Homo sapiens: one gene and its partner. The protein of the gene in region 2 purifies or fractionates together with the protein of the main gene of each other region. This does not show direct contact. Each region holds a gene or a part of one and is shown on either strand. Other genes may lie near its edges.

The links.
Region 1: the proteins of SETX (region 2) and ARHGAP1 purify together in Homo sapiens (affinity purification with mass spectrometry; 2 studies listed by BioGRID and IntAct, with this or other methods). This does not show direct contact.

The regions. Positions count from the first base shown.
Region 1 is NC_000011.10:46,686,813-46,690,721, reverse strand, and holds part of ARHGAP1 (rho GTPase-activating protein 1), read left to right. Parts: intron 1-2,461; coding exon 2,462-2,549; intron 2,550-3,909. UniProt on the Homo sapiens protein: GTPase activator for the Rho, Rac and Cdc42 proteins, converting them to the putatively inactive GDP-bound state. Cdc42 seems to be the preferred substrate.
Region 2 is NC_000009.12:132,352,956-132,356,864, forward strand, and holds the start of SETX (probable helicase senataxin), read right to left. Parts: upstream 2,032-3,909; 5' UTR 1,962-2,031; exon of another isoform or gene 1,682-1,961; intron 801-1,681; 5' UTR 694-800; intron 1-693. UniProt on the Homo sapiens protein: Probable RNA/DNA helicase involved in diverse aspects of RNA metabolism and genomic integrity.

The DNA of each region.
Region 1 (3,909 bases), on a different chromosome or scaffold from region 2:
AGCCATGAAAAGGGGCAGCTAACCTGTCTGGGGAGAGAGGGCGAGGACACAGGATTCCAGGCGGCGATTATGCCTGCATTGAGTCTTAAGGGTTGGTGGGGGCCCTAGAATATCTTAATGAGAAAGGATAGAATGCTTAGAAACCTACAGAAGTCAATCAGAACCAGTGTCGTCCATAATTCTAGTAATAAGCTGGGTGCAGTGGTGCACACCTGTAGTCTCAGCTGCTTGGGAAGCTGAGGTGAGAGGATCACCTAAAGCCAGGAGTTCAAGAACAGCCTGGGCAACACATTGAGACCCCCATCTCTTTTCTTTAATTTTGTCTTTTTTTTTTTGAGACGGAGTCTCGCTTTATCACCCAGGCTGGAGTGCAGTGGGGCGATCTCGGCTCACTGCAAGCTCCGTCTCCTGGGTTCATGCCATTCTCCTGCCTCAGCCTCCCGAGTAGCTGGGACTACAGGTGCCCGCCACCACACCTGGCTAATTTTTTTTTTTGTGTGTGTGTTTTTAGTAAAGACGGGGTTTCACCATGTTAGCCAGGATGGTCTCGATCTCCTGACCTCATGATCCGCCCACCTCGGCCTCCCAAAGTGTTGGGACTACAGGCGTGAGCCACTGTGCCTGGCCGAGACCCCCATCTCTTAAAAAAAATTCTAGTAATAAAATCAGAAAGCGATTGTCAGTGGTCAGAAATGAGACATGACTGTTAAGTAATCAGACTGATTTCCTCAGTGGCTGAAACATGCTGAGAAGGTAACTTCAAGAGGCTTTCCAAATACACACTGCTCAGCGGGGGTGCTTTTGGAAAAGTGTAGACTTATAAGATGACTATTTGGCAAGATCACAAATGCTTTAGTGAGCATTTTTTAAAAATTGAGGTAAGAGCCGGGCGTGGTGGCTCATGCCTGTAATCCCAGCGCTTTGGGAGGCCAAGGCAGGTGGATCGTGACGTCAGGAGTTCGAGACCAGCTTGGCCAACATGGTGAAACTCTGTCTCTACTAAAAATACAAATATTAGCCAGGCATGGTGGCAGGCGCCTGTAATCCCAGCTACTCGGGAAGCTGAGGCAGGAGAATCGCTTGAACCTGGGAGGTGGAGGTTGCAGTGAGACAAGACTGTGCCACTGCACTCTAGCCTGGGTGACAGAGTGAGACTCCATCTAAAAAAAAATAATAGTAATAATAATTTGAGATAAGAATCACATAACAAAATTCATCAGTTTGCAGTGTACAATTCAGTGGTATAATATTTAGTGCATAATGTCATAAAATTATCACCTCCATCTAATCCCAAAACATTTTCACCACCCATACCCATACCAAATGCTGTACCCACTAAGCAGTCTGTCCCCATTCCCCACTCCTCCCAGTACCTGGAAACCACTAATTTGCTTCCTGTCTCTATGCATGTACCTATCTAGACATCTCATGTAACTGGAATCATAGACTTGGTGGCCTTTTGTGACTGGCTTTCACTTGGCATAATGTTTCGGAGGTTCATCCACATTGTAGCATGTATCAGTACTTCATTCCTTTTTATGGCCAAACAGTATTCCATTGCATGGATTAACTACATCTTTTATCCGCTGATGGACATTTGGGTTGTCTGCACCAGGCATAACTTTTTTTTTTTTTTTTTTGAGACACTCTTGCTCTGTCACCCAGGCTGGAGTACAGTGGCACCAGCTCAGCTCACTGCAACCTCCGCCTCCCAGGTTCAAGCAATTTTCCTGCCTCAGCCTCCCCAGTAGCTGGGACTATAGGTGTGCACCACCACACCCAGCTAATTTTTGTATTTTTGGTAGAGATGGGTTTTCACCATGTTGGCCAGGCTGGTCTCGTAACTCCTGACCTCAGGTGATCCCCCTGGTTCAGCCTCCCAAAGTATTGGGATTACAGGCGTGAGCCACCGCGCCCGGCCGGCATGACTTTTTAAAAAGTGATGTTGGCTGGGTGCGGTGGCTCACATCTGTAATCCCAGCACTTTGGGAGGCTGAGGCAGGAGGAGGCCAGGAGCTCAAGACCCAGCCATGGCAAGATAGTGAGATCTGTCTCTACAAAAAATTTTAAAATTTCACCAGGTATGGTGGTGCTCACCTATAGTCCTGGCTACTTGGGAGGCTGAAGCAGGAGGATCTCTTGAGCCCAGGAGATTGGGGCTACAGTGAGCCGTGATTGCGCCACTACATTCCAGACTGGGTGAAAGAACAAGACCCCATCTCAAAGAAAAAAAAATCACTTTTTTTTTAATACCCCAGCTCAGTAGCCCTGAAAGCAAGCTGTCCCTGTCTTCAGTGGCACACCCTTGCATGCAGGAGGCTGCCCGGAGGTCTGTCTGCATGGGCACTCTGGCCCCTGTGGTAACTGGCTCAGATCAGCAGGCCTGGCCCCTTTAAGTTCCTCACCCCACTTCTTTTGGTTCCCCTTCAACCCACTGTGCTCCATCTTTCTCCACACCTAGGAGATGACAAGTATGGGCGGAAGATCATTGTGTTTAGTGCCTGTCGAATGCCCCCCAGCCACCAGCTCGACCACAGCAAGCTCCTGGGGTGAGTACCTGCTGGGAAGTGTGTTGGGGCTTTGCCCAGATCCCCATTGTAGCCTAATGCCACGTTCTTTACTGTCCCTCCCTGCCTGTGGGTGCTAGGCCACCTGCCTTAATGCCTTCCCTCTTCTCATGAAGGAGCTGGTTTATATTTAGGGGAGAGCACTGGACGAGGAGTCAGACCTAGTTTCTAGTTATTGAAGCTGGGTGACCTTGGTAAGCATCTTTAAGCCTCGCTTTCCTCACCTTTCAAAAGGGATAATAATATAGGCCTCTTTCCTTGTAGGAGTGACAAACAGCACATGAAAAGGAAGGACTTTTGTCCAGATGTGATGATTGACTGTTATAATCCTATGGTGTTTCTGAGATGGTTGCAGTTGTTTATCGTTTATAGGACTCATTAGTGTTGTCTTATTTTGTGCCTTTGGTGTCAGTGGTTTCTATACCGATGTGGGTTCTGGGGCCAAACATATGTAATAGCTCTGGCCGGTCCAGACATGTCCTGATTCATGTCTGAAGGCTGGTTGAATGCCAAGGCTTGAAAGACTCATTTATGGTTGAGCCAGCTCTGGGCCCACAGGCGAGCAAACTCACTTCCTGCTGCTGTCCTCGGGGTGTGTAGTAGAGTGAGACCATCTTGCCCTTCTTTCTGTTTTCTCGGCAAATTTTAGAAAGATGCAGTTCTTTCCTGACCAGTTTGAAGCACTCTCTGAAATGTAAAATCCTGGCACTGTCCCAAGCAGCTCTTTGAGACCCTGAATGGTTGCGTGCGAGCAGGAGGAGGTGTGGGCTTAGGGACAGACCCAGAGGGCAGCCGCAGAAGGAGAAGGGCCTGAATTTGGAGTCTCAGCCAGTCCTGGCAAGCCAGGGCCACAGGCTGAGTCTTCCAGCGTCATCTAGGAATTCTATCTCTCTGGCCTTCTGAACCCTCTTCCCACTGCTCTTCAGACAAGGCAGGCAGAGCCTTGTCCAAGCCCGCCGCACGGCCCAGCCAGAATGGGCAAGAGCTTGGCCTGGGGCTGGTGGAGGCACATGGCCTTTTCTCTAGTTCTTTCTATGTCTGATGTACCAGGTGACAGCCTCCTGCCCAGATAATAAGTGAAGTGGGAGGAAGTCAGTGGATGTGGGTGGAAAGCACCTGGTTTTCAGGAGACAGCTTGCCAGGGAAGGCCACACCCACCCCAGGGCGTCCTTGGCTTCAGGAAGTCCTCAACATCAGCTGCTGCTTGTCCTCCATCACTTCCGTCCTAGTCACAGTCCCTGCTGAGGGCAGTGGGGTGCTTCCATCATGGAGCACTTTGTCCCATTTTCAGTCAGATTATCTCAGATGTGGCTCTTCCCAGCTGTCCACCCAGATCCAGGAG
Region 2 (3,909 bases):
CTACTTTCTTCTCAGTGCAACCGCCACTGCCTTAGTTCAGTACATTTTCATCATTTGCCTGGATTACTGAAGAAGCCTAAATGATCTATTTCTTCTTTGATCGCCATCAATTCCTCCTCCAAAATGCTGCCAGAGGCCAAAGCCCCAAACTGGACTTCGAAAGCACAAATGACTCCTCCTCCAATGTTGGGATAAAATTCAAATTGCTGAGCTCAACACACACAAGGCCCGCGATGATCCAGCTTCCACATCATCTCTTTCCTCCACACTTACCTCCCTTGACTTGCTCTTCCTAAAACCATTCATGGTGACTGGTATTCCCTGCCTTTATGGAAGCTCTTCCACTGGCCTTGGAAACCCACCCTCCTACCTCTGCCCGGTACTTAACTGTGAATACACATCAGACTTACCTCAGGAACTTAAAAAAAAAAGTAGAAAAGATCCTATGGATAAAATTGTTTCCCTTTTAAAGAACTCCACTAAGATTCGAAGAGAAAGCTGGATTTGAGAACAACCAGTGTGCAAGCTCTTCCTGAGTGTCATCACGTCTGGGGGGGGGGCCTGTCCGACCCGTCCTCTCTTCCAGTCTATCTCTGATGACCTTCTTCTCTGTCCCTTTAGGACTCTGCACATGTTTCCATCATTGCACTTACCTTGGTGCTCTGAACTCCTGCTAAAAAAAAAAATTATTACCTGGACAAATGGCCTACAGAAAAGTGATCGTCTCAGCTGGGCTTAGTTGTGAACAAACACGGATTTGCATTCATATATGCCCAGACTCTGGCCCCAAAAGAACATTTCTGAAATTAAAAAACAAAAAACGAAATTGGTAAGTGGCATTTATACTCTATATCCCATCTGAGCCTGGTATCGATCCTATTACAGACAGATACTGCTGGCTGATGAGGAAGCCCAGATAGGTTAGACAACTTGGCTGTGGACTTCCAGGAAACAGCAGAACTGCAATTCTGACTCCCAGTTCCACAAGGGGCTGTCCCCACTCACGGGGACAGCTAGGCACCGAGCCAAAAATCCCCCAAGTTATTAGCCCGCGCAGGTAACATCAATCCTAGGATCCTCAGCTGTGTCACTTATCAAATACCACACTCGGCCTTCTCCTTGTGGAGCTCTTTTCCCTCAAGGCAGTCACCCCCGTTTCACTTGGGTCGTGCAAATTGCTGGGCACATCCTTAGATCCCCAGAAGTTGGGGAGGACGGACAAAGTCCTGTGGCCAGCAGCAAAAGCTCCAGCCCCTCCAAGTGGGAGAAACAGACTCTCCTCCAAACGAAGGGACCGGCCGGGCGCGGCGGCTCGGAGGATCCCTGGAGCAGCTGAGCTCAGCCTGGGAAACACAGCCAGGCCCTGTCTCTGCAACACATTTTGTTTTTAATTAGCCGGGCGTGGTGACGCGCGCCTATGGTCCCAGTTACTCGGGGGGATGAGGCGGAAGGATCGCTGGAGCCCAGGAAGACGAGGTTGCTGCGAGCCGTGACTGTTCCACTGCACTTCAGCCTGGGTGACAGAGCGAGACCCCGTCTCAAAAAAAAAAAAAAAAGAAAAAAGAAAAAAAAACAAAGGGAGGGACTCCAGGCGAGAGGCAGACGAGCGTGTGGAGGGAACCGACACTTTCCACCCCGAGACCTCCCGCTCAGCCCCAAGGAAACTACGCAGTATCCACACCAAAAACAGCTCACACGAGACCGCAGTGTAGACAACGGAAGGACAGGGGGTCGCAGCGGCCGGGTCCAGCGCGCAGGAAGGCAACAGGCGGCCGCCAGCCGTCGAGGGGTGCTCCCGCCCCCGCACCGAGGGAAGCGGCCGAGCCCGCGCCGACTCTTCCCCCATCCGCCCACCGGGACCTAGGCGCCGCGATGGTTCCCCGAAGCGGCCCTGCAAGCACAAGCCGCGCCTGCGCTCACGCCCGCCCGACCTACGGCCTCCAGCCCGCCGCTACCCTCACCGCTCTCTGGCTGGCGTCGGCCTCTAGCCCACCTCCATACCGGGCCCCGCTCTAGGCCACCAGCGGAAGTGCGGGCCCGCAGCCGCAGCTACCAACCAGCTGTTGCCGCGAGGTAGGCCCCGCCCCCGCGCTGAGTCGGCCGGCCGCAGGCCCCGCCCCGGCCGCTGCTTTCTGGTTTTGGTGCCCCCCAGGGGGCGGGGCATGGGAAGAGCGGCCGCGGTGCACCGCCCACGCCGGGCGCTGGCGTCACGTCCGGGCAGCTGGGGCCCGACCAATCCCGAGTCCCCGTCAGGGTGGACGGGGAGAGTTTGCCGCGGAACCTTGACCTCGGCCCCGCCCGGGGCTTCCTGCGGGTGGGGCGGCTCCGGGATGAGCTCTGCTGCGGGTGGGGTCAGCCCTTACCCGCTGGCCATTTCCGTTCCCTCTTTTTTCTTCTTTTTTCCACGCCTCAGGTGTCTCAGCGGATGTACTACGGTGACGAAGTAATTTTTCTCTTTAGATTTCCTTTAAAGACCTGAAATGTAAATTACATAAACGTGTAATTTCGGAGGAATATGTGTATATCCTTTATATTACAAGAAAGGGAGACCTTAGGTCTTGCGAACAATGCGCGCGATGCGCAACACAGCAGAGTAAATCCCTCGCTGGTGCGGTGGCTCCCGCTTCTAATCCCACCACTTTGGGAGGCCCAGGCGGGAGGCTCGCTTGAGCCCGGAGTTCAGAGACCAGCCTGTGCAACATAGCGAGACACCCGTATGTACAAAAAAAAATTAAAACTCAGCCACCGAGGCCGGGCGCGGTGGCTCACGCCTGTAATCCCAGCACTTTGGGAGGCCGAGGCGGGTGGATCACCTGAGGTCAGGAGTTCGAGACCAGCCTGACCAACATGGTGAAACTCCGTCTCTACTAAAAATAAAAAGATTACCTGGGCGTGGTGGCGGGTGCCTGTAATCCCAGCTACTCAGGAGGCTGAGGCATGAGAATGGCTTGAACCCGGGAGGCAGAGGTTGCAGTGAGCCGAGATCGCACCACTGCACTCCAGCCTGGGCAAAGGAGCGAGACTCTCTCTCCGGAAAAAAAAAAAAAAAAAAAAAAATTAGCACCTGTGGGCCCAGCTTGTTGGGAGGCTGAGGCAGGGGGTGGATATCCATTGAGACCGGGAGATCGAGACTGCAGTGAGCCGTGACTGTGCCACTACACTCCAGGCTGGGGAACAAAGCAAGACCCTGTCTCAGAAAAGTCTATAAATAAATAAAAATGAGTAAAATCCACTGGAAAGCCTATCCCCCCCCTTTTTTGTTTTTGAGATGGAGTCGCGCTCTGTCACCCAAGCTGAAGTGCAGTGGCGCAGTCTCGGCTCACTGCAACCTCCGCCTCCTGGGTTCAAATGATTCTCCTGCATCAGCCTCCCGAGTAGCTGGGAGTACAGGCGTGTGCCACACGCCCGGCTAATGTTCATGTTTTTAGTAGAGATGGGGTTTCACCATGTTGGCCAGGATGGTCTCAAACTCCAACCTCAAGTGATCCGCCCCGCCTCGACCTCCCAAAGTGCTGGGATTACAAGCGTGATCCACCGCACCCGGCCCCTACCCCCTTTTAGTAACGCCTACTACTGACCACGATGATGCAGCGTCACCGTCTTACAGTTAATAGAGGAGACAGGGAAATTAAACAATTAGTAGTGGTGACTCAGGCGATAAAAAAAGAGGCTGAGATGGGCCAGCTTGGGAAAAGTGGGTCAGATACAGCCTTACCGAGGAGAACCCTGGCCCGAGGATGAGGAGCAAGCCCAGGGGAACACTGCGGGAAAGGCCCAAGGCGAAGGAAGATTCTAGCAAGGGGGCGTGGCTTGTTGGAAGGGCGTGGTGGCCGTTATGCAAATTTAACCGTCTAAGGAGCAGCACGCGTTGACCGTTATTTTCCTCTTTTCTACTTCTTCATCCTGTCA